3 linked regions of the Homo sapiens genome follow. The protein of the gene in region 2 purifies or fractionates together with the protein of the main gene of each other region. This does not show direct contact. Each region holds a gene or a part of one and is shown on either strand. Other genes may lie near its edges.

What was found.
Region 1: the proteins of HSDL1 (region 2) and RTN4 purify together in Homo sapiens (affinity purification with mass spectrometry; 2 studies listed by BioGRID and IntAct, with this or other methods). This does not show direct contact.
Region 3: the proteins of HSDL1 (region 2) and PITPNA purify together in Homo sapiens (co-immunoprecipitation; 2 studies listed by BioGRID and IntAct, with this or other methods). This does not show direct contact.

What each region holds. Positions count from the first base shown.
Region 1 is NC_000002.12:55,026,452-55,033,559, reverse strand, and holds part of RTN4 (reticulon-4), read left to right. Parts: intron 1-5,339; coding exon 5,340-5,396; intron 5,397-6,074; coding exon 6,075-7,108. UniProt on the Homo sapiens protein: Required to induce the formation and stabilization of endoplasmic reticulum (ER) tubules. They regulate membrane morphogenesis in the ER by promoting tubular ER production.
Region 2 is NC_000016.10:84,142,165-84,149,249, reverse strand, and holds the start of HSDL1 (inactive hydroxysteroid dehydrogenase-like protein 1), read left to right. Parts: upstream 1-4,072; 5' UTR 4,073-4,170; intron 4,171-7,085. Other genes in the region: DNAAF1 (dynein axonemal assembly factor 1), read right to left, coding at 108-243, 3,686-3,809.
Region 3 is NC_000017.11:1,552,725-1,559,832, reverse strand, and holds part of PITPNA (phosphatidylinositol transfer protein alpha isoform), read left to right. Parts: intron 1-1,273; coding exon 1,274-1,304; intron 1,305-6,683; coding exon 6,684-6,829; intron 6,830-7,108. UniProt on the Homo sapiens protein: Catalyzes the transfer of phosphatidylinositol (PI) and phosphatidylcholine (PC) between membranes. Shows a preference for PI and PC containing shorter saturated or monosaturated acyl chains at the sn-1 and sn-2 positions.

The sequences.
Region 1 (7,108 bases), on a different chromosome or scaffold from region 2:
AACAGGGAAGTCAGTGGCAGAGCTGAAACAAGAAGGCGGTAGGGTTACCTTGTTCCATCTCAGCTGGGAACTTGTACTTTGGATGACCCGCTCTGGTTTGCCTGCTCTGCTCATTGCATGTCCTGAAAGTGCTGCAAGTATGGATTTTGGGGCTACAAATTTAGTGAGCAGGTAAATGAGCAAATAAGGAATCCATGAATAATGAGGATCATCTGTATATAATTTTAGATTGTCAGTTTTTTCATAACTTTAAAGGCGTTCATTACCTTTTGGATTACATCAATGAGAGGTGAGGTCATTCTTATTGTTGTTTACCTGCTTTTTTCCTCTGACTGTTTTTAGGGTTGTCTCTATCTTTGATTTTCAGTTTGACCCTTATGGTGTGCCTTTTTGTGGTGTTGTGTTTATTCTGCTTGGAGTACATTGAGCTTTGTGGCTCTGTTGGTTGGTATTTTCAAAATGCCAACTTCTGTCCAATTTTAGGCCATTTTTTCTTTTTTTTTTTTTTTAACTTCTTCAGTCTTTTTTAAAGAGACAGGGTCTTAACTGTGTTGTCCAGGGTGGAGTGCAGTGGCGTGATCATGGCTTGTTACAGCCTCAAACTCCTGGGCTTGAGTGATCCTCCCATCTCAGCCTCCTGAGTTGCTAGAACTGCACGTGTGCACCACTACACCGGCTAATTTTTAAGTTTTTTGTAGAGATAGGGTCTCACTGTGTTGTCCAAACTGGTGTCCCAACTCCTGGCCTCAAGTGGTCCTCCCACTTTGGCCTCCTAAAGTGTTGGGGTTACAGGCATGAGCTCCCATGCCTGGCCACTGTTGCTTTTTTTAAGGGGACTGCAATTATAGGTATTTTAACTCCTTGATTGTCTCTCAGCACTGAGGCTCTGTTCCTTTTTTCACTTGCCCTTTTCCCTTGTTGTGTTTCAGTTTGGATACTTTCTGTTGTTGTTTTTTAAGTTTGTTTATCAATAAATCTTTTTTTCTGTATTGTCTAATCTGCCTTTAAGCTCATCTAGTGATTATTTTCAGTTAATATAATTTACAATTCTAGCATCTCCATTTGGTCCTTTAGTCTATATTTCTCCACCAAGATTCCCTGTCTACTCTATATGTCTGTCTTTTTCTGTACTTAATATCTTAATAGCTATTTTAATTTTCATTTTAATATTTGCTAATCCAGGCCAGGTGTGTTAGTTCACACTTGTAATTCCAGCACTTTGGGAAGCTGAGGCTGGCGGATCACTTGAGGTCAGGAGTTTGAGACCAGCTTGGCCAACGTAGTGAACCCCGTCTCTACTAAAAACACAAAAATTAGCTTGGTGTGATGGCAGACACCTGTAATCCCAGCTACTCAGAGGCTGAGGTGGGATAATTGCTTGAACCTGGGAGGTGGAGGTTGCAGTGAGCCAAGATAGCCCCGCTGTACTCCAGCCTGGGTGACAGAGCAAGACTCCGCCTCAAAAAAAAAAAAGTGCGAATCCAACGTCTACGTTATTTGTTTGTTTATATTTGCTATTCTTTCTTATTTATGGTCATATTTTCTTGCTGCTTTGCATGTCCATTAATTTATTTTATACTGCATGTCATGGATTTGGTGGTTTTAACTTTGTTCTGGCAGGCAGTTAATTTGCTGGAAAATCATTTTGATCCTTTCAAGTTTTGATTTTAAAGTTAGGGTGGGTCTAGAGGTAGGGGTCTGCAGACTTACAGGGCCAGTTAGAGTAAATAGTTTAGGCTTGTGGGCCATACAGCCTTTGTCTAAACTGTTCGTCTCTGTTTTTATTGTGCAAAAGTAGTTATAGACAGCACAGAAGTGAATGGGCGTGGCTGTGTTCCAATACAATATGGGCTCATGAGCCATGGTTTGCTGACTCTTGGTCTAGAGTATCCTTTAGGCTTAGAGTAGTCCTGCTTGAGGTGTTTAGAGAGATCTTTCCTTTCTGACTGGTCAGAATTTTTAGATCAGGTCTTCAGCACTTTCTGACCTTCGATATAATCCAGTTAATTTGCAGCTCTACCATAGGTTTCTTGGCTAGGCCTTGCCGAGTCTTGTGCTGTGCACATGCAGCGTAGTATTCACCCAGAGGTTTAAGAGGAACCCCTATCCAGATTTTTGGAGCTCCTTTTCTGTGAGGCTTTACTTTGTATGTTACCCTGTCTCACAAATTCCAGACAACTCCTCAGCCTCCTCAGCTTAGCAAGAGTGCGGTATTCTTAGGCTTCTCTCTGTACTGTAGACCAGAATGTGCCTTCAGACAGAAAGCAGCGTAGTCATCTTGCAGGTTTCCCTTTTCTCAGGATTCACACTGCTGTCCTGCCTCTTGTCCAGTGTCTCAAGATAGTTGCTTCTAGTATTTTGCCCATATTTTTAGTTGCTTATATTGGAAGAATTAGTCTGTTGTAATTACTCTCATAGCCAGAAGCAGAAGTTCTATGGTTTTAAAATGCAGGTTTTTTGTAGTATTGTAATTAGATATGATTTAAATGCCTCTTTTCTCGTATGTGAAATGGGGGTAACAGTAGTACCTACCTTACAGGGTAGTTTTGAGAACAGAATGAACATCTGAAACAAATGTGCCGGCTCAGCACAGTACCTGTCCCACATTAATGTTTCTATAAATGTTGTTACATTGTAAAATAGAAGCAATTGATCAATGCAATATTTCTGCTAATTACAAGGTATTTACTGGGTGACGATTTACCTTGTTTCAGGAGAACTAACTTGAGGGGCTGATACAGTAAGAAGGATTGCACCAGTTGCACTTGTACATAAATACATCCTTCAGAAGATGAAGCACATCTCGTGCTTTGAGGAAGCCTAGCCAAAAAATAATAATAATTATAAAGCACAAAGACTTGGGAATTAGATGTTTTGACCCTCTGGCCTCCTAGTTCTGTGACTTAGGGCAAGTTGTTTCTTCTTTTTTCTTTCCCTCTCCCTCCTTCACAACATTTTTAGGTGGGTACTCTTATTATCCTTATTTTACAAGTTTCATTAGGCACAGAAAGGCTAAGAGTTACAGTTGTAAGTGATGGATTTGTGATTTGGACTTAGGCAATTCAATTTCATGATCTGTGATTGCTTTATTAGGAGTCTGAACTGTATTCTTGAAGTCCCAGAAGATAGTTAACTATTCTGGATTTTTTTAAAGAGCTTTTAGAAATGTAGTACTTGTTTTATGGGTAACTGGATCGAATCCCATTTTACAAAATGAAGATTTTTCTTTTTTTCTTAAACATAATGAATCTTTGAAATACCAATTTGAAAACTTTTTTACTTAGAAAAATTCCAGGAATATAGTTTTTATTATAAAAGATTATTGCACTAGGTAGGAATAAGAGTACAGTACATTAAAAAAATACTTTAAAATTATGGCACAAATTTAGATGTAGTTTGTTTTCCCACTAACTTTAACAGTAATATATGTTTCTAGTTCACTTTCCAGATAGACTAGCCTCTGAATTAGTGGCTTTTAACTATATTGTCTAGATAAAAAAGACAACCATTTTGTTAAGAATTGGTTAACTGTTATTTAGATGGAGCAGCTGCGTAATTATTTGGTTCTGCTCTTTGACCCTCAAATTTCAGTTTTATACAAGCTAATAATTCATTATTTTAGCTGAAGGGAACTTTCCTTCATTTTACAAATGAGAAACTGTAATTTAAGATCACATAGCAAGTAATCTTTTAAATATGTGTACACATATATATGCACTTTATTTAAAAATCTTATAAGCCATTATGTTACCCCTTTGACTGGATAGCCCATCCTACCTAGTGCTCTAGGTTGGAGGAAACCCTTTTAAACACACATCATAAATTTCCCGTCATCACCCTCATCTAGGAATCCTTTAAGTATGACTTCATGCCCAGTATATATTTATCTAAAATATATAAGACCTTGTGAAGTTAGCTCTCCTAATTCATTAAGGGTAATATGCTTGGAAGACAAGTCCGTATTCATGTTAGCTACATTTCTTGGATTTTTATCTGTTTTGATCAGCCTTGTCTAGCTTGTCCATCCAGATGAAATTGTCTAAATTTATTAGGTTCTCTCTGTTAAAGGAATATCACCTTCCAGTCATCTCTCAGGCTGTTTCAAATTGTCTGATGGTAGAGGCCTTTCTCTAGTGTAAACCATGGAAGATCTTTAGCTTAGGATCTCCCAACTGCAGGTACAAGATGACATTGTACAAAGTTAATATTACCAATATAGAGTGTATTAGTTAGCTTGGGCTGCCGTAACAAAATACCATAGGCTGGGTGGCTGAACAGAAATTTACTTCTCACAATTCTGGAGGCTGGTAAGTCTAAGATCAAGGTGCTGGCAAGGTAGATTTCTTTTTGAGGCCTCTTCTCCTGGCTTATAGGTGACCACCATCTCACTGTGTGCACACATGACCTCTTGTGTGTGCCTGGGGAGACAGGGAGCATGACAGCAAGCTCTCTGGTGTCTCTTCTTGTAAGGGCATTAATCCCCTTGGCCCAGGGCCCCACCCTGACTGCATTTAACCCTAATCACCTCCCAAAGTCCCCATCTTCAGATACTATCACTTTAGGGGTTGGGGCTTTAACATGAGTTTTGTAGGAAATATAAGCATTCAGTTCTGTAACATACAGTGATTAAGGAAATGGGCTCTGGAATTGAATTGCCTTAGTCTCTCACTTACTAGTTGTGTATACAAATAACAAGTAGCCCTCACTTAGGTTAATTTTAAGCAAAACCAATAATGGTGTCATCCTAAAGGCAGTTAATTTTTTTTTTTTTTGTATTTTGGACTCTGGCATTTGGACATTGGCACAGGACTAATGTCTTCAAAGAGCAATGTACAATGACTGTAACAACTTAGAATGTAAGAGAAAATGCATAATTCTTTAAAAGTGTTTCTTTAAATTGAATATATGCCAATAACAAAAGATTAAACATTTGTAGTTGTTAATTGTATTCAAATTCAGCTTTTTGTTTTTGGCCTGAATAGAACAAGACAATTTACCTATGTGAAAACCTGAGTGAAAGCTTGGGATGTGATATGTTAAGTAGAACAGTATTTTAAAGCCACTTTGATTCATAAGTTTCTTTAACATAAACAGGTTGTATTGCCTCTTGAAAAATGATAGGTTCTATGGATAACATTTAATTAGCTTTATAATACATATGATGATTTAACCTGAATTAATGGTACTACTTTTTCTGACTTCCTTTTGATCTTGGCCCTTTCTCTGTAAAGTTTTTTGTTAACTTATTACAAACTGAACCCTGGCTTGCTCCTCTTATCTTTAGTCTCCTTTCAATCTGTCTTTATTTCTGCTGAGGTTATATTCTATTTGTTTTTCAGATGAGACCCTTTTTGCTCTTCCTGCTGCATCTGAGCCTGTGATACGCTCCTCTGCAGGCAAGTTCTTTCTGCCAGCCTTTTATCCTCTCTGTATTCTAACTTTAACTCTTTAGTGTGTTAACACTATGCAGAGTAGTTTGGGTTTACTAAAAATTAGCATGGTTCCGAGAATGTTTTGTCTACTGGAAAAGTTGAAATGTGCATTTTATATGGTATGCCCAAGGGAAAAATGAGCAAAATCTGATGAATACTTGGAAGTACATAAGGAATTCTTGGACCCTTGAATTACATTTACATATTTACCATTCCCTTTCTCCAAATACAGTTTGAGTATAGCCAGAAAGGCTTTCCTGTAAATAAATACCAGTCTATGGCATTTACCCAGTGCCCCTTCTTTCCTATGCTGTCACCGAAACTCTTTTCACAGATATTCTTCTCTTCTCTAAAACTAGCTATTAGTATCTTAGTTGATAACATTTGAGGTTTACTCAGACTTGATTTGTCTTTGCACAGCATGTAATTGCCTCTGTAGCCATGCATATGTTATATTTACAATAGCTTAATATTTTCAGTAATGATTGAAGTCTACTCTATTGTTACTTATTAATTGCTATTAACATTTCATTTTAGTAAACAGTAAGTCTTTACTAACACTATTTTGGATCTGTCATAAAACTTGCATTAACTCTGAGAACACTGGCATTCTCTAACTTTCCTTTCTGTCCATGGTCACAGAAAATATGGACTTGAAGGAGCAGCCAGGTAACACTATTTCGGCTGGTCAAGAGGATTTCCCATCTGTCCTGCTTGAAACTGCTGCTTCTCTTCCTTCTCTGTCTCCTCTCTCAGCCGCTTCTTTCAAAGAACATGAATACCTTGGTAATTTGTCAACAGTATTACCCACTGAAGGAACACTTCAAGAAAATGTCAGTGAAGCTTCTAAAGAGGTCTCAGAGAAGGCAAAAACTCTACTCATAGATAGAGATTTAACAGAGTTTTCAGAATTAGAATACTCAGAAATGGGATCATCGTTCAGTGTCTCTCCAAAAGCAGAATCTGCCGTAATAGTAGCAAATCCTAGGGAAGAAATAATCGTGAAAAATAAAGATGAAGAAGAGAAGTTAGTTAGTAATAACATCCTTCATAATCAACAAGAGTTACCTACAGCTCTTACTAAATTGGTTAAAGAGGATGAAGTTGTGTCTTCAGAAAAAGCAAAAGACAGTTTTAATGAAAAGAGAGTTGCAGTGGAAGCTCCTATGAGGGAGGAATATGCAGACTTCAAACCATTTGAGCGAGTATGGGAAGTGAAAGATAGTAAGGAAGATAGTGATATGTTGGCTGCTGGAGGTAAAATCGAGAGCAACTTGGAAAGTAAAGTGGATAAAAAATGTTTTGCAGATAGCCTTGAGCAAACTAATCACGAAAAAGATAGTGAGAGTAGTAATGATGATACTTCTTTCCCCAGTACGCCAGAAGGTATAAAGGATCGTTCAGGAGCATATATCACATGTGCTCCCTTTAACCCAGCAGCAACTGAGAGCATTGCAACAAACATTTTTCCTTTGTTAGGAGATCCTACTTCAGAAAATAAGACCGATGAAAAAAAAATAGAAGAAAAGAAGGCCCAAATAGTAACAGAGAAGAATACTAGCACCAAAACATCAAACCCTTTTCTTGTAGCAGCACAGGATTCTGAGACAGATTATGTCACAACAGATAATTTAACAAAGGTGACTGAGGAAGTCGTGGCAAACATGCCTGAAGGC
Region 2 (7,085 bases):
GGCAATTCAATCTCTACCAGCCTCTATTTCATTATCCGTACAAGGGGGTGATTACGCCATCTACCTTACTCCATAAATGTGCACTAATTAGGAGTATGCCCACATACCTGGGGCCCCGATCTTCCCTGTCTTCTCTTGGGTGTGCGAAGTGACCACCTGACCCATTATCACCACTCTGTTTCTGCTGGCTGTGGTAGGATGTGTCAGAAGAACCCACACATATTTCCTTAGGATCATTAATTTCTGTAAAATAAAAGAGATCAGGTCTGTAGAGATCAAGATATATGCCAAAAAATACCCCCAACTTCAGCTTGGTTAATGACCATCCACTTTTAGTATAGAACACCAGTATTCTTTAGTGGCTGGGTATGGTGGCTCAGGCCTGTAATCCCAGCTCTTTGGGAGGCTGAGGCAGGTAGATTGCTCGAGCCCAGGTGTTTGAGACCAGCCTGAGCAACATGACAAAACCCCATCTCTACAAAAATTAGCCAGATGTAGTGGTGCGTGCCTGTATTCCCAGCTACTTGTGGGGCTGAGGCAGGTTGATCACTCGAGCTTGGGAAGTCAAGGCTGCAGTGAGCTGTGTTCACACCACTGTACTCCAGCCTGGCAACAAAGTGAGACCCCGTCTCACCAAAAAAAAAAAAAAAAAAGAGAGAGAGAGAGAACAGTAATCTTTAAATGTGTAACAATTTTTAAAGCATTGGCAAAGACTATGTAAATTTCACTTCTAGGTAGATCCTCTATAAAAACTCTTGTACAGGTGCACAAGAAAACATGGACAAAGAGATTTGTTTCTGCGTTTTTTTTTATAAAAGCCAAAAACTGTTAACAACGTAAATGTCCATCCATAGGGGCTGGTTACATAAAACAATGACTTGCTTTTCTACCTTTGAGAAGAATGCACTAGAACTACATCTATCCATAGGGATAATTCTCAGAAACGTATATGGAGTGAAAAAAGCAAGTTTCAAAATAAGCACAGGATACCATATATAAATTAAAAATATGCAAAGCAATACTATACACTGTTTCAGGGCATACATGTATAGAGAAGTGCTTGCAAGAATTCATATAAAATTCTGGACAAGGGAGGAAAGGAATGGGATTAGAAACGGGGTGGGGTACAGGGGAGAAAAGGAACACCAACTCTATGTGAAATGTTTTATTTCTTTTTTTTTTTGGAGACCGTCTTGGTCTATCCCCCAGGTTGGAGTGCAGTGGCGGGATCTCAGCTCACTGCAACCTCCGCCTCCCGGGTTCAAGCGATTCTCATGCCTCAGCCTCCCAAGTAGCTAGGATTACCAGCGCCTGTCACCATGCCTAGCTAATTTTTTTGTATTTTTAGTAGAGACGGGGTTTCCCCATGTTGGCCAGGCTGTCCTCAAACTCCTGACCTCAGGTGACCCACCCGCCTTGGCCTTCCAAAGTGCTGGGATTACAGGCGTGAGCCACCGTGCCCACCCTTATTTATTTTTATTTTTTTTTTGGGGGGGGCTTATTTCTTTAATTAAAAAAGACTTCAAATAAATATGATAAAATGTTACTCATTTTCAATTCTTGCTGGCAAAACACGGGTATTTGTTTTAATGTTCTTTGTTCTTTTGTCTTTTAAAAAATTTCTGAAGCCAGGTGTAGTGGAGCATGCCTGTAGTCCCAGCTACTCAGGAGGCTGAGGCAGGAAGATCTAGCCTGGGTAACATAGTGAGATTCCATCTCTTAAAAAAAAAATCATAAAAAGGAAAATCACATGAAAAGAAACAAAAATAGTGAGAATATCTATGATAACAATAACATGAGCACATTCAAATGAATAATTTTTTTAAAGGTCATTCAAAATTGGCCAATTCAACCGCACTTAACTTTAAGAGCTGTTGTCTGCTGCTTTCTGTGTTTGTGTGGTCTATTGAACAAGACTAAAGGCTGTGCGTGTGGGGACTGGTTCTTAAACTCATCAATTTTGCATAGAATGCCCAGCCACAGGAAGCAACAGATAAATGTTTGTGGAAAAAATAAAGAATAAGCGCTCAATATATAAATATTAATATGTAATTAATAACAAGAGCTACCATTTAATAATGGCCCACTATATGCTGGGACATTTAATTATAATTCTCTCCTTATACTCCTGTATAATTATTCCAGCTTACAGATGAGGAGACTAAGGCTCCGAGAGGTTAAGCTCTGGGCCAACAGCCATAAAGCTGGCCAGCTGCTGAGCCTCAACTTGAACCCAGTGTCAATGGCTCCAAGACCAGTGTCTTTCCACTGAGTAATGCCAGTTCCCTATGGCTCCTCATACAAGGTTCATCTGGACAGTTGATGCTTAAGATATATTTGTTGCCTGGAACACAAATCAGCTGGTTTATTTGTTGCCTGCGTTCAGAAACTGGAACACAAATCAAGTGGTTTTTTAATGTAATCACTAAAAGGTTTCCTTTAGGGCACCAAGTCTAGTGGGAGCAGAAGCTGAAGCCAGGCTTCCTTCTTTCCTTTTTTTTTTTTGAGACGGAGTCTTGCTCCATTGCCCAGGCTGGGGTGCAGTGGTGTGATCTTGGCTCACTGCAGCCTCAGCCTCCCCCTTGGCTCACTGCAACCTCTGCCTCCGGGGTTCAGGGAATTCTCCTGCCTTAGCCTCCCAAGTAAGTGGAATTACAGGAGCACGTCACCACGCCCTGCTAATTTTTGTGTTTTTAGCAAAGACAGGGTTTCAATATGTTGGCCAGACTGGTCTCGAACTCCTGACTTCAGGTGACCCACCTGCCTCTGCCTCCCAAATTGCTGGGATTACAGGCGTGAGCCACCGTGCCTGGCCATGAAGGTTATCTTTCAAGTCCATTCTGGCAAACTTTGGTGAGGGGATCACACACTGACCCCAGAACCAAGTCTTCATTCGGACTCTCTACCCTAGGTCAGGCACTGGACTAGACTCCAAATTCAATCAAGATGTCTTGCCCTGACACAACATGCAGTCTGGAGGGAGAGAAAGCCTTTGATCTTACATAGTGATAGCAATAAAGGGACACATTTAAAGCATCAAAGTTGGGACCAGGGAGAATAGCGTGGTGGGTTAGGGCTGGGGCTCTGGAGACCCAGACTGTCTGGGCCTGAGTCTGGTGGGTTTTGTTTGCTTGTTTGTTTGTTTGTTTGTTTGAGACGGAGTCTCCCACTGTCGTCCGGGCTGGAATGCAATGGCGAGATCTTGGCTCACTGCAACCTCCGCCTCCCGGGTTCAAGCGATTCTCCTGCCTCAGCCTCCCAAGTAGCTGAGACTACAGGCGCCCGCCACCACGCCCAGCTCATTTTTTGTATTTTTAGTAGAGACAGGGTTTCACTATGTTGGCCAGGCTGGTCTCGAACTCCTGACTGACCTGATGATCCGCCCGCCTCGGCCTCCCAAAGTGCTGGAATTACAGGCGTTGAGCCACCGCACCCGGCCAAGTCTCTTCTGTCACTGACTAGCCGAGGGTTATCTGTTTGGTGCAAGTTTTGTAACCTCTTAAGTATGTTTCCTCCTCAGTACGAAATGGCGAGAGAAGCCCCTACTGCAGAGCGTTGCTTGCTACCATTATTATTATTGTTATTATTTGGCTGTGAAGATCGGGTATGTGGTGTGGGAAGGGGGCTGGAGCGCCTAGCCGTGTCTGCCCCTCGCCCACCGCCCTCCCTGGGGGGCAGTCGGCACCTTCCTTGCAGCCCCCTCGGCCTGCGCTCCCGTGGTCACCCGCAGACTCCTCCACGCCGGGCTCCTGCGCGCAATCCAGCTCTGCTGCACCACCTGTCGCAGGCTCCGAGGGCTCAGGGTGCATGTTTACTTCGGCGACACCGAACGCCCCGCAGCTTTGGGGGGCCCAGGTTCGCGGCGGACGTCGCTACGGCCCCAGCCCAGCCAGAGAGTACCCTCTTTCCTTCTTCGCCAGCCGCTGGCGCCCTAGTCTTTACAGCCCAACGCTTCCCCGGTCGCCCAGGCAACCGCTGCGCACGCGCACTCGGGACGGACCGGCGCGCTGGGGACGCCGGGGGGTGGGGGCGGGTCTGAGACGGCTCCGCCCCCGGCGCGTACGCGGGTCACGTGAGGGCGCGGCGCGGCAGCAGCTCCGGCGGCCGAGACGGGGGCGGCGGCCGCGCGGGTCTGGCGGGACCGGTTTGGAAGACTTTGCCGGCCTGCAGGTACCGCGCCCCCCGCGCCCTGGGCGCCCTCTCGCGGTCCTTTCGCCCCAGACCCCTCCTCGGTCCCCTCAGCGCCAGCCGGCTGCTTGGCGAGACCCCTCTGAGCTCTCACCACGCCCCCCAGGCCCCGGGCCCCCTCCGCTGCATCCGGCCCCGAAGCCCCTTGGCGCCCCTGACCCCAGGAAATCTTCGTCCCTCCGTCCCGTGAGACTCCTTCCTTCAGACCAAAAAGCCCCAGCCCCGCCCCTTCACATCTCAGAGCCCCCCTTCCCCCGGCTCCATCCTCACGCCCCCCGCCGCGGCGCTGCACCCCTGTTCTCTCTCTTCCCCCGGGCCTTGCCCCCCAAACCGCGAACCCCGTTGTCGCCGGCGCATGCCCTGCCCTCCCTGCAGCCTCTCACCCGGCTCCTCCCCCGAGCGGCCCCAGCAATCGCCTCCTTTGTCGGTGCTTCTTTATTCTCATTTCTGAACGATTTGGTTTGAGTTGTTGTTGCCGTGTTTTTCTAAAATGGAAATATGCAGCGGTCGTGGGTTCAGCCAGGATTTCCGAGTTTGCTCGTGTTGACTGGGCCTTGCCGGGTGCTGGAGGGGAAGGGCTGGGAAGAAGAACCAGGCAGGTCCCCGTTCTGAACGTGCCACCCAGACGCAGCCCCAGAAACCGGATCGCTGCAGCGCCCCTCGGCGATCCCAACATGATGTGTACAGGTGACTGCGAGGCAGTCGGGGGGTCTCACAGTGGGCTCCCTGGACAGGACTCTGCGCCTTGCTATACCTCCATCTGAATTGCAGGTAGCCCCTTTCTGAGTTGTGGGGTCTTGGGTGTGCGACTTTACATCTATAAGACTCAATTTCCCCATCTATAAACGGGAGAGTCTGACTGCGCTTTATAAGATTAATGAGAGAATAAAGTGAGACAATAGGAATAAAGCACTTAGCAGAGTCTTTTGCATAAAGTGAGCTCTCAATTTTACTCTGACCGCCACAGGAGAGAGAGAGAGAGAGAGAGGGAGGGAGGGAGAGGGAGAGGGAGGGGGAGGGGGAGGGTGTTGATTGATTGATTGATTCAGACAATCTCGCTCTGTCGCCCGGGCTGTAGTGCAATGGTGCCTGCGATCTCAGCTCCTGCTACCTCTGCCCGCCATCCCGCACCCCGGGCCCAAGTGATTCTCCTGCCTCAGCCTTCCGAGTAGCTGGGATTACAGGCACGTTCTACCACACCCAGCTAATTTTTTTTTTTTTTTTTTTAGTAGAGACGGGGTTTCGCTGTGTTGGTCAGGGTAGCCTTGAACTCCTGGCCTCAAGTGATCTGCCCGCCTTGGCCTCCCAAAGTTCTGGGGTTACAGACATGAGCCACTGTACCCGGCCAAGTTTGTGGTTTTAATCACTGCTGGAATATTCTAGGGCAACAGAGTTGAACATATTGGTGCTACTTTTTTTTAAAGTAGGTTTTCAAAAATCGAAATGACTTACGCATGACATAAAATTTATCATTTTAGCCATTTTACAGTGTATAACTCAGTAGTTCTTGCTATAGTCACAATGCTATGCAACCATCACCAGTAACTAATTCCAGAACATTTAATCACCTACAAAAGAAACCCCAACCCCATTAACAGTCATACCTCTTTTCTCCCCCTGTCCCTCAGCAGCCCTAAGTTATCTTCTGTCTCTATGGATTTGCTTATGCTGGACATTTCATACAAGTGGAAACATACAACATACGGCCTTTTGTATTTGGTTTCTGTCCTTTAGCATAATGTTTTCAAAGTTTATCCATGTTGTAGTATGTATCAGTACTTCATGCTTTTTTATGGCTGAATAATACTCCTTTGTGTGGATAACACCACATTTTGCTTATTCATTCATTTGTTGATGGACATTTTGTTTGTTTCTGCCTTCTGGCAGTTGTGAGTAGGCCACTGTGAACATGCAAGCAGGAGTTTTTATGTGAGCAAAAGTTTCTAATTATCTTGGGTATCTGCCTAGGAGTGGGGTACTCTGAATATTTTAATTCTTACTGCATAAATACAGACATGATGGTGAAGAGTGTTGGATCTTGGATGAGAATCCAGGTTTCTAATTCCATGTTGCTGCTCTTTAGGCTCAGCTTCATTGTGCGTTTAGTCCTATACCAAAAATTGGCAGTGAAGGTAAAGACATCCCAAAAAGTCTTGATACACCAATGCTAACTTTGTCATAGTGCTGACGCAGAGTATGAAAAGCTTAAGTTTTTTTCTCAAGAGTGAAATTTGAGCTTTGAACACAAAGCAGTATTTGATTCTGTTTATTAAATAAAGTTGTCTACAGCAGCATGTCAGGTGCTGAGGAGGAATATTAAAGATGTGTGAGATCCGGCCGGTCACATCCCAGTGCTTTGGGAGGCCAAAGTGGGCGGATCACAAGGTCAGGAGTTCAAGACCAGCCTGGCCAATATGGTGAAACCCCCGTCTCTACTAAAAAAGAAAAAAATACAAAAATTAGCCAGGCATGGTGGCACACGCCTGTAGTCCCAGTTACTTGGGAGGCTGAGGCAGAAGAATTGCTTGAACTTGGAAGGAGGAGGTTGCAGTGAGCTAAGATCGCGCCATTGCACTCCAGCCTGGGTGACAGAGTGAGACTCTGTCTCAAAAAAAAAAAAAAAAAAAAAAAGATGTGTGAGATCCCAGCCTCACACCATCACAAAACGCCAGGAGGATTAAAGACTTAAACTGAAAAAGCAAAAATGTAAAATTTCTAGAAAATAATTCGAAAAAATTTCTTCATGACCTGAGGCTAAGGAGGGATTTCTGAAATAAAACAAACCCTAAAGCAGAAAGATTGATATATTTGTCTCTTTCAAAATTAAGACATTCAGCCAGGTGCAGTGGCTCCCACCTGTAATCCCAGCACTTTGGGAGGCCAAGGCAGGTGAATGG
Region 3 (7,108 bases), on a different chromosome or scaffold from region 2:
GTTGTTAGCAGGCAGTAAAGACTTGGAGCCCATTTTGTTTTTCCTGCTACTTTCCTGCTTGGTGTCTTGCCTTTGAGGTGATGTTTTCCTCAGACCCCTCTGTGTCCTTCTTGCTTCCTGGGGGACCTTTGTGGAACTAGAAAATAGCTGTTTACTAGCCTGGAGCAAGGAGCCTGAGTGGTGAGCCGGCTGCATAAGGAAGGCACAGCAGCTCATGCTTCCCTAATGCTTCACTAAACATGCAAGACACAAAAGGACCCAGAGGGCTCCAGCAAGGGTCTGGGGACCGAACGTCTAAGCTTGGAAACTGGCTGGACTTGTATGGGTAAAACCAAGAGTTTTTGTCTTAGCTCTCCCGCCTCACAGCTTTGAACTGGGGGTGGCTCTTGGTCTGCATTTCACATGCACGGCACCTGGAGAAGTGCTGCTAGCCCTGGCACCTCTGTGGGGTTCTGGCCCTGGCGGAGACTTTGCCGGCCACGGCTTCTCCAATAGGTTGCTGGTGGCATCTCCAGCAATTGGTGGTCATTGAGTTGGAGAAGAAGAAAAGAAAATGATAAATTGGGATTCCTTTGGACAGCTCCTGGAGGTCAGGACATAAGTTGAATGCCCTCTTGGTGGCTTTGTGGTAGCAGCTTGGATTGTAATATCCAGCCCCGAGCAGAGATGCCCGGTGTGTGTTCTTAGGCTTCAAGGGGCTTGGTCCCTTCCTGGCCCTTCCCCTGGAGGGCTGTTGTTGGGAGGTTGGGTCCACAGAAATTTAAGTCCCCAGGGCCTCTTGTTTGGGTCTGAATCCTCACCATGATAGGTCCTCCTGTGTTAACCTGTCTTACTAGACTCACTGGCAAGTCTTGTTGGGGGGACGACTCATTGGCAAGTTTGGGTGAAGTTTATCATCCATATGTCCAGTTCCGAATGTGAGGTGGAGGCCTGGGAAGTAGCTGGCGGGAGGATAGGTTTGGACTGAATCACAGGGTTCTAACTGGGATGCCTCAAGGTACAGAGGGTCCTGTCCTCAGAGCACTAAGAGGGCCATTCTCTGGGGGGGGGGGCGGGGGGGGGGTGTTGTCACAGAGTTTAGTGTCTTACACCTCTAGGGCACAGAGGGTCCTGTCCTCAGAGCACTCAAAGGGCCATTCTCTGTGGGGTTTTCGTCACTGAATTTAGTGTCTTACACAATAGAATGCTGCTGACTGTTTTAGGATGATGCTTTAAAGAGCCTTGAGCAGATTGCACAGCCTAAAGTTGATACTCTCTTTTCCCTTTCTTATAGTCGAGTAATCCTGCCTGTGTCTGTAGATGAGGTAAGTCCTTTTACTTTCTGGTCCATAGTTGTGTGTAACTGTTTGTGACCATTGGCTAAGCTGGGCTCTGAGTGGTTATCCTGTTTATATAGTTTTCTTATTTGTTCTAACATAAATATTTCAATGTGAATTTCGTGGTGCCACTTTCAGTTGAAAAATGGCACTTACTTTGTATATCTGGGTAACTGTGTGCAACCTGTCCCAAGCTGTTGGTATGCTGGATGAGTAGAGATTAAACCAGCCCCTTTTATCTGCTGGGGCTGTGCATGTCTGGGGACCCTTTTTTTTTTTTTTTTTTGAGACGGAGTCTTGCTCAGTTTCCCAGGCTGGAGTGCAGTGGTGCGATCTCCGCTCACTGCAACCTCTGCCTCGTGGGTTCAAGCTATTCTCCTGCCTCAGCCTCCCAAGTAGCCGGGATTACAGGTGTGTGCCACCACACCCGGCTAATTTTTATATCTTTAGTAGAGATGGGCTTTCACCATGTTGGCCAGGCTGGTCTCAAACTCCCGACCTCAAGTGATCCGCCCGCCTCAGCCTCCCAAAGTGCTGGGATGACAGGCGTGAGCCCCCACACCCGGCCGGGGACGCATTATTGATGGGATCAAGTGTGTGCATTTCTGGGACGTCCGTGACTCGGCTGGCAAGTGTGCGTGGCTCTTTCTGGTTGTGCAACAAACCAGCAGGGCAGGAAATCTCTTGAGGCTCTCCCTAGCCACGATAGGTGACTGCTGGAAAGACCAAGACACAGAACCCTCCTTTTACGAAGGGCAGGGAATAACACATAGGCTTGGCTTGTCCTCTGTCCTTTTACGGTTCCTGGGTCTGACATCCTTGTATGTGGGGATCTGGCAGCAGGATTTGCTGTAAGAAGGTTCATAGGCCATGCTGACTCAGAGTCAGTCTCTTGGACAACGGAAAACTGTCACGGAACCTCCCTTGTCTCACTCTTTCTCTGAACTTCTTCCACTCTCCTCTCCTGGCGCAGCCTTGTTCTTTGCTTCCTTCTGAAATCACAGCCCCACCCCGCCCCAGCTTCCAGTTAAACTCGAGTTTGGGTGAGGTTCGTCAGCCAGTATAGTGCCTCCAGTCACTGGGCTCCGTCTCTCTTTCCTGCAGTGTCAGCATGAAGCTCCTGTGATAACTTCCACTCTGTTCCCAATATGAACTGCACCTTTGAAAAATGAAATCAGGCCAGCAGAGCCTGCAGCACATTTAGTTGAGACAGACATCCAGGCTTGTTGGCCCCCGAGAGGGGTGGGCAGACACTGGCCCTTTAGAGGACTGCCTCCAGGGGTGGGCTACATATCTGATAAGAGCTGTGGGGACCTGGGGAGGGGGCCAGAGGTGGGCCTTGACCGTGATCTTGGGGTTCTGGGAAGGGCAGAAAAGAGAAACGAGACTGGGGAACCTGGGAACCAGGGAGAATGAGGGAATGGCTGGGTAGATGGCTCTAATCCCTGTAGGCACTGGGGATGTACCTGGGGCCTGAGAACCAGGTGCCTGGGCTGACAGGTGTTGGCTTGGAAGGGTCTTGTTAACCCACCTGCTTTGGCCATGCTGTCTTTATTTTTTTTATTTTATAATATTTATTTTAAATAGTGGAGATAGGGTCTCACTCTGTTGTCCACGCTGGTCTTGCCTCAAGTAGTCCTCCTGCCTCAGCCTCCCAGAGTGCTGGGATTACAGATGTCAACCACTTCACCCAGCCTGTGCTGTCTTTATTGAAAATAGCAAGCGATGATTTTCCAAACCAGAAGGCCAAGCAGGAAAGCCCAGCGCGTCCCTTGCCCTCAAACTCAGCTCTTGGGGAGGTGTCCAGTGACGTCCTCTCTGCTGTACAGGATGATCCCACCCCGATCGTTAGGAAGATGTGCCCCAGGAACTCGGGATTTCCTTAGTGTGGTGATTAGGGGTGAAATGGATCCTTTGATAGGGAGTTTCTTGATGGAACGAAGGGCGAGAGTGTCTCTGAGAAGTGCTGCAGACCAAGGAGGGCCAGCCTGTCCTGGAGCACCTGGGGCTGTTCTTGGAGTAAGGCTGAAGGGCCAGACACTGATGGCTTATGGTGGGGCCAAGACTGGAAGGAAAGGGGAACTTCCACCTTGAGAGCATCCACAGTTGGCGGGTGTTCACTTGTGATGGTTTTTCTGCAGCATTGAGGAAGTGGTGGGGCGGAGTTGAGTAATCAGAGCCTGAAGTCTAAGCAGAAGCTTGGGAAGTGAGTGCTGATCAGGATTCACCTGTCTGCCTGGCAGTGGTCAGCCCGTTCTCAGCAAGAAACCATTGACAAGAAAGTACCACGTGGCCTGGGTAGGGTCGAAGCGGAACTTAGTTTCAGAGAATTAGAAAAATCTTGGAGGGGAAGGCCGAAGAAGAAACAATTCATGATCAACCTTCTCAGAGTCTTTGTCAGTAACCCCATCCCCATCCTGACTTAACAGTTTCTATGGGAACAGCTCAGCATCTTGTGACTGGTGGATTCACTTCCTAAATTGGAGGCCATGACTTGAGGCCTTTGCAGTTTTCTGATTTAGGGGAAAGTGAAGAAAGGGAAAGAGAAGGTCATGCCTTTGTAATCATTCCGATGGCCTGCATCAATATTTTGGGGGCAGAATTAGCTTCTGGGTGGCCAGAGCCTTTGGTCTAACCCTGAGTGTCTGGGCGTTGTGCAGCAGAGCGAGAAAGCCCTGGCTGTTTGACGGGGTGTGTCCACCAGTGCTTCCTGGCACAGGTCGGCCGGGCTGCTTCACTTCTTGTTTCCAGAGATTCACGGCACCAGTCCCCCTCTGGTACCCAGCCTGACAGGGCCATGTTGGTGGGACCAAAGCTGTACTGTTGTTTATGACGTGTTTCATGTCAGTATTTCAGGCCCACCCACTGGGCTCCCCCTCCCAGATTGCCAAAGTTGTGGAGTCTGTTTTTCTTAGTTGAATGTCTTAGTTCTCTGGGATAGGTGAACAGATCTCAAGAGCAAGGAACATCATCGCAGGTCTGAGGAGGCTAGATTCCCAGTCCTGTTGGAGTTTTTTAAATCTGATTTAATGATCTGACCCTCCCACTCCTATCTCTGCCCCATCCGAGTCTGGCTGCTTTCCCAGGGGGCAGAGCAGCTGTGCCAAAAGGAACTCTAACGTGAAAAGCGCCCTTCACTTGTAGCTTGTGCAGGCCAGTCTTGCTTACCCCTTTAGATTAACAAAACTGCCTTCACTTGTCTCATTGGGATTAAAGGATCAGAATATCAAGAGAGATTGAAGGGGGAAGATGCCAGCCAACAGGCTGATCCTCTTAGAACCTGCCCTCTGATTCCTGCAGCTGAAGAGAAACCAAATGAAGGCGATTAGTCTCTGCCTGGGGTCCCCCTTCCCAAGTGGTACCACTAGCTGGGAACCTCGCCCCCTCCACCAGGCCCTCTCCCCAGCCTGTCCTTTAGGATTGCTGAGTCAGTGGTTAGATGTTCTTACGGCTCTTCTCTGAAACGGAGTTACTGCTCCTTCTTAGGCACCCCTGGCTCAGCCAAGCCCTGACCCACCTGACGGGTTTTCATGTGTGCCTAGCTGGGTGGTGGACTTGGAGAGGCACAGGGACAGCTTGGGGCTCCAGGGGGGCATTGAGGCAGCACTGATGCAGCTTAGGATTAGCAAGGTCAAGGTGACTGGCTTTCACCCATATGTTCCTCTGTATGGATTTCACTGAGCCTCGATTGCTGCCCCTTTTCATGGCATTTTGTTCTGGGATTTTGCTTTGAAAGTTAGGGCTCTTTCAGCCTTGTGGTGAGCAGTGAATTGTCCTCGTCCTCTGCTTCACTTTCCAGATTTTGCCCAGAAATTTCCCTGCAGTGCTTAGGAAGCTGCCTGGTAGAGCAGGTTTCTAAGTTTGAGGCGAAGCAGCTCTGGAAGCTGCCTCTGTCCTTGCTGTTGGAGGCAGTGATTTAAGTAGCAGTTGCCTAGAGATACATCCTTTCTGTTTTAATCTCAAAGAGAGAAAAACCCAGTCCCTGTAATCCCAGCTACTTCGGAGGCTGAGGCAGGAGGCAGGAGGCAGGAGAATCACTTGAACCCAGGAGGCGGAGGTTGCAGTGACCTGAGATCGCACCACTGTGCGATCTCTGTCTAAAAAAAAAAAAAAAAAAAAAAAAAAATAGAGAAACACCCTTGTCTTCCCCCCGGGGGTGCCAGGAGTTGGGCATAGAGCTCGAGGAAACCCTTTGTCCCCCTCCACCCCCCAGCATGTTGGGTAATCCCATAGCTTTTTTCCTTTTTCTCATACTCCCTAAGCAGCCATGCCTGATTAGCACCGGCAGCGGTAGGAAAGACACATCCGTTGGTGTAGACATAATTTCCTGCCTCAAATGTTGCTGTTCATTTTCTTTTCACCTTGTTTTCTCCTCTGGACAGCTTCTCAGAGAAGAAGGCGGAAGGGCTAAGTCTGGGCACTGCCTAGGTCATTGGCCCATCCTGACAGGGTCAGAGGAGGCCAATCATGTTGACTGGTGACTTGATAGGGTGGCATGTGACCCAAATAAAGGAAAACTAGGTTTTTGCCATGTAGTAAGTGCCAACACAGAGGGTGCACCCAGCCGGCACAGACTGTGGGGCAGGAATCTGTAATATCTCATGTGGGAAGCAGGAATACTTGCTTGGCCCCACCAGGAATCTGGAAAATGTCAAGAGGTTTCATTGCCTGAAAGAGCTACTTGCGGGGTGAGGAGAGGCCTAAGACTAGAGAAGAAGCGAGTAGATGAGCCAGTTTTACGATAGAGGTTGCGGATTTCACAGAGCGCTGAGCACCTTTCTTTGACAAGAAATCAAGTCTTAGGATCTATTTAAATGGGTGAGATCCAGTGATTTCTAGCAACCAACCTAGGTCTTCTGGGGTCTTAATACCAGAAGCAGGCTTAGCACAAAAGCTCCTTTGGACTCTAATCTGTTTTCTGCGTGGTGGTGTCAGGTTAAGTAGACTCACCTGCCTCTTTAAATCCTGATGGATTGACTGGGAACGGTGGCTCATGCTTATAATCTCAGCACTTTGGCAGGCCAAGGTGGGAGGATGGCTTGAGACCAGGAGTTTTGAGACCAGCCTGGGCAACATAGCAAGACCCTGTCTCTACCAAAAAAAATAAATAAATAAAAATAAACCCTGATGGGTGGTGTGAAAATGAGAAGGATGAACTAAACACGTCTGATGGGTCAAGAGGGGCCATGGAGCAGCACTGTCAGTTGCTTTGGGTGGGTTTGGGCAAGGCCTGATGTGAAACTCCAGAACCAGCTCCTGCATGAGGAGACCCCAGGGAGATCCAGTTAGACACTTACTGGCAGCTGGATTACGTGTAACCGTTGAGAAGGGTCCGTGTTGAGAATAACATCTGTCTCTGTCCTTTAGTATCAAGTGGGGCAGCTGTATTCTGTGGCTGAGGCCAGTAAAAATGAAACGGGTGGTGGCGAAGGCGTGGAGGTCCTGGTGAATGAGCCCTACGAGAAGGACGGTGAGAAAGGCCAGTACACACACAAGATCTACCACCTGCAGAGGTATGCGGCATGAGCAGCGGGGCCGGATGCTGGCTTTTGTGTGTGTGTGAATGAGTGTTATTTCCTTTATTGTTTTATATAGATGGGATTATACTAATTGTTATATCCTAACAATTAATAGTTATATACTGACTGTATAAATGTTATACTCACATTTATATAGATGGGAATATACTATTCCTTTTTTGTTGTTACTTATCATGGCCTCCTCTCCCAGCCTGTTCTGTCTGCCTCGGTCTCTGAAGTCCGTGTAGGATTCACAGTATCATGGGGGACAGA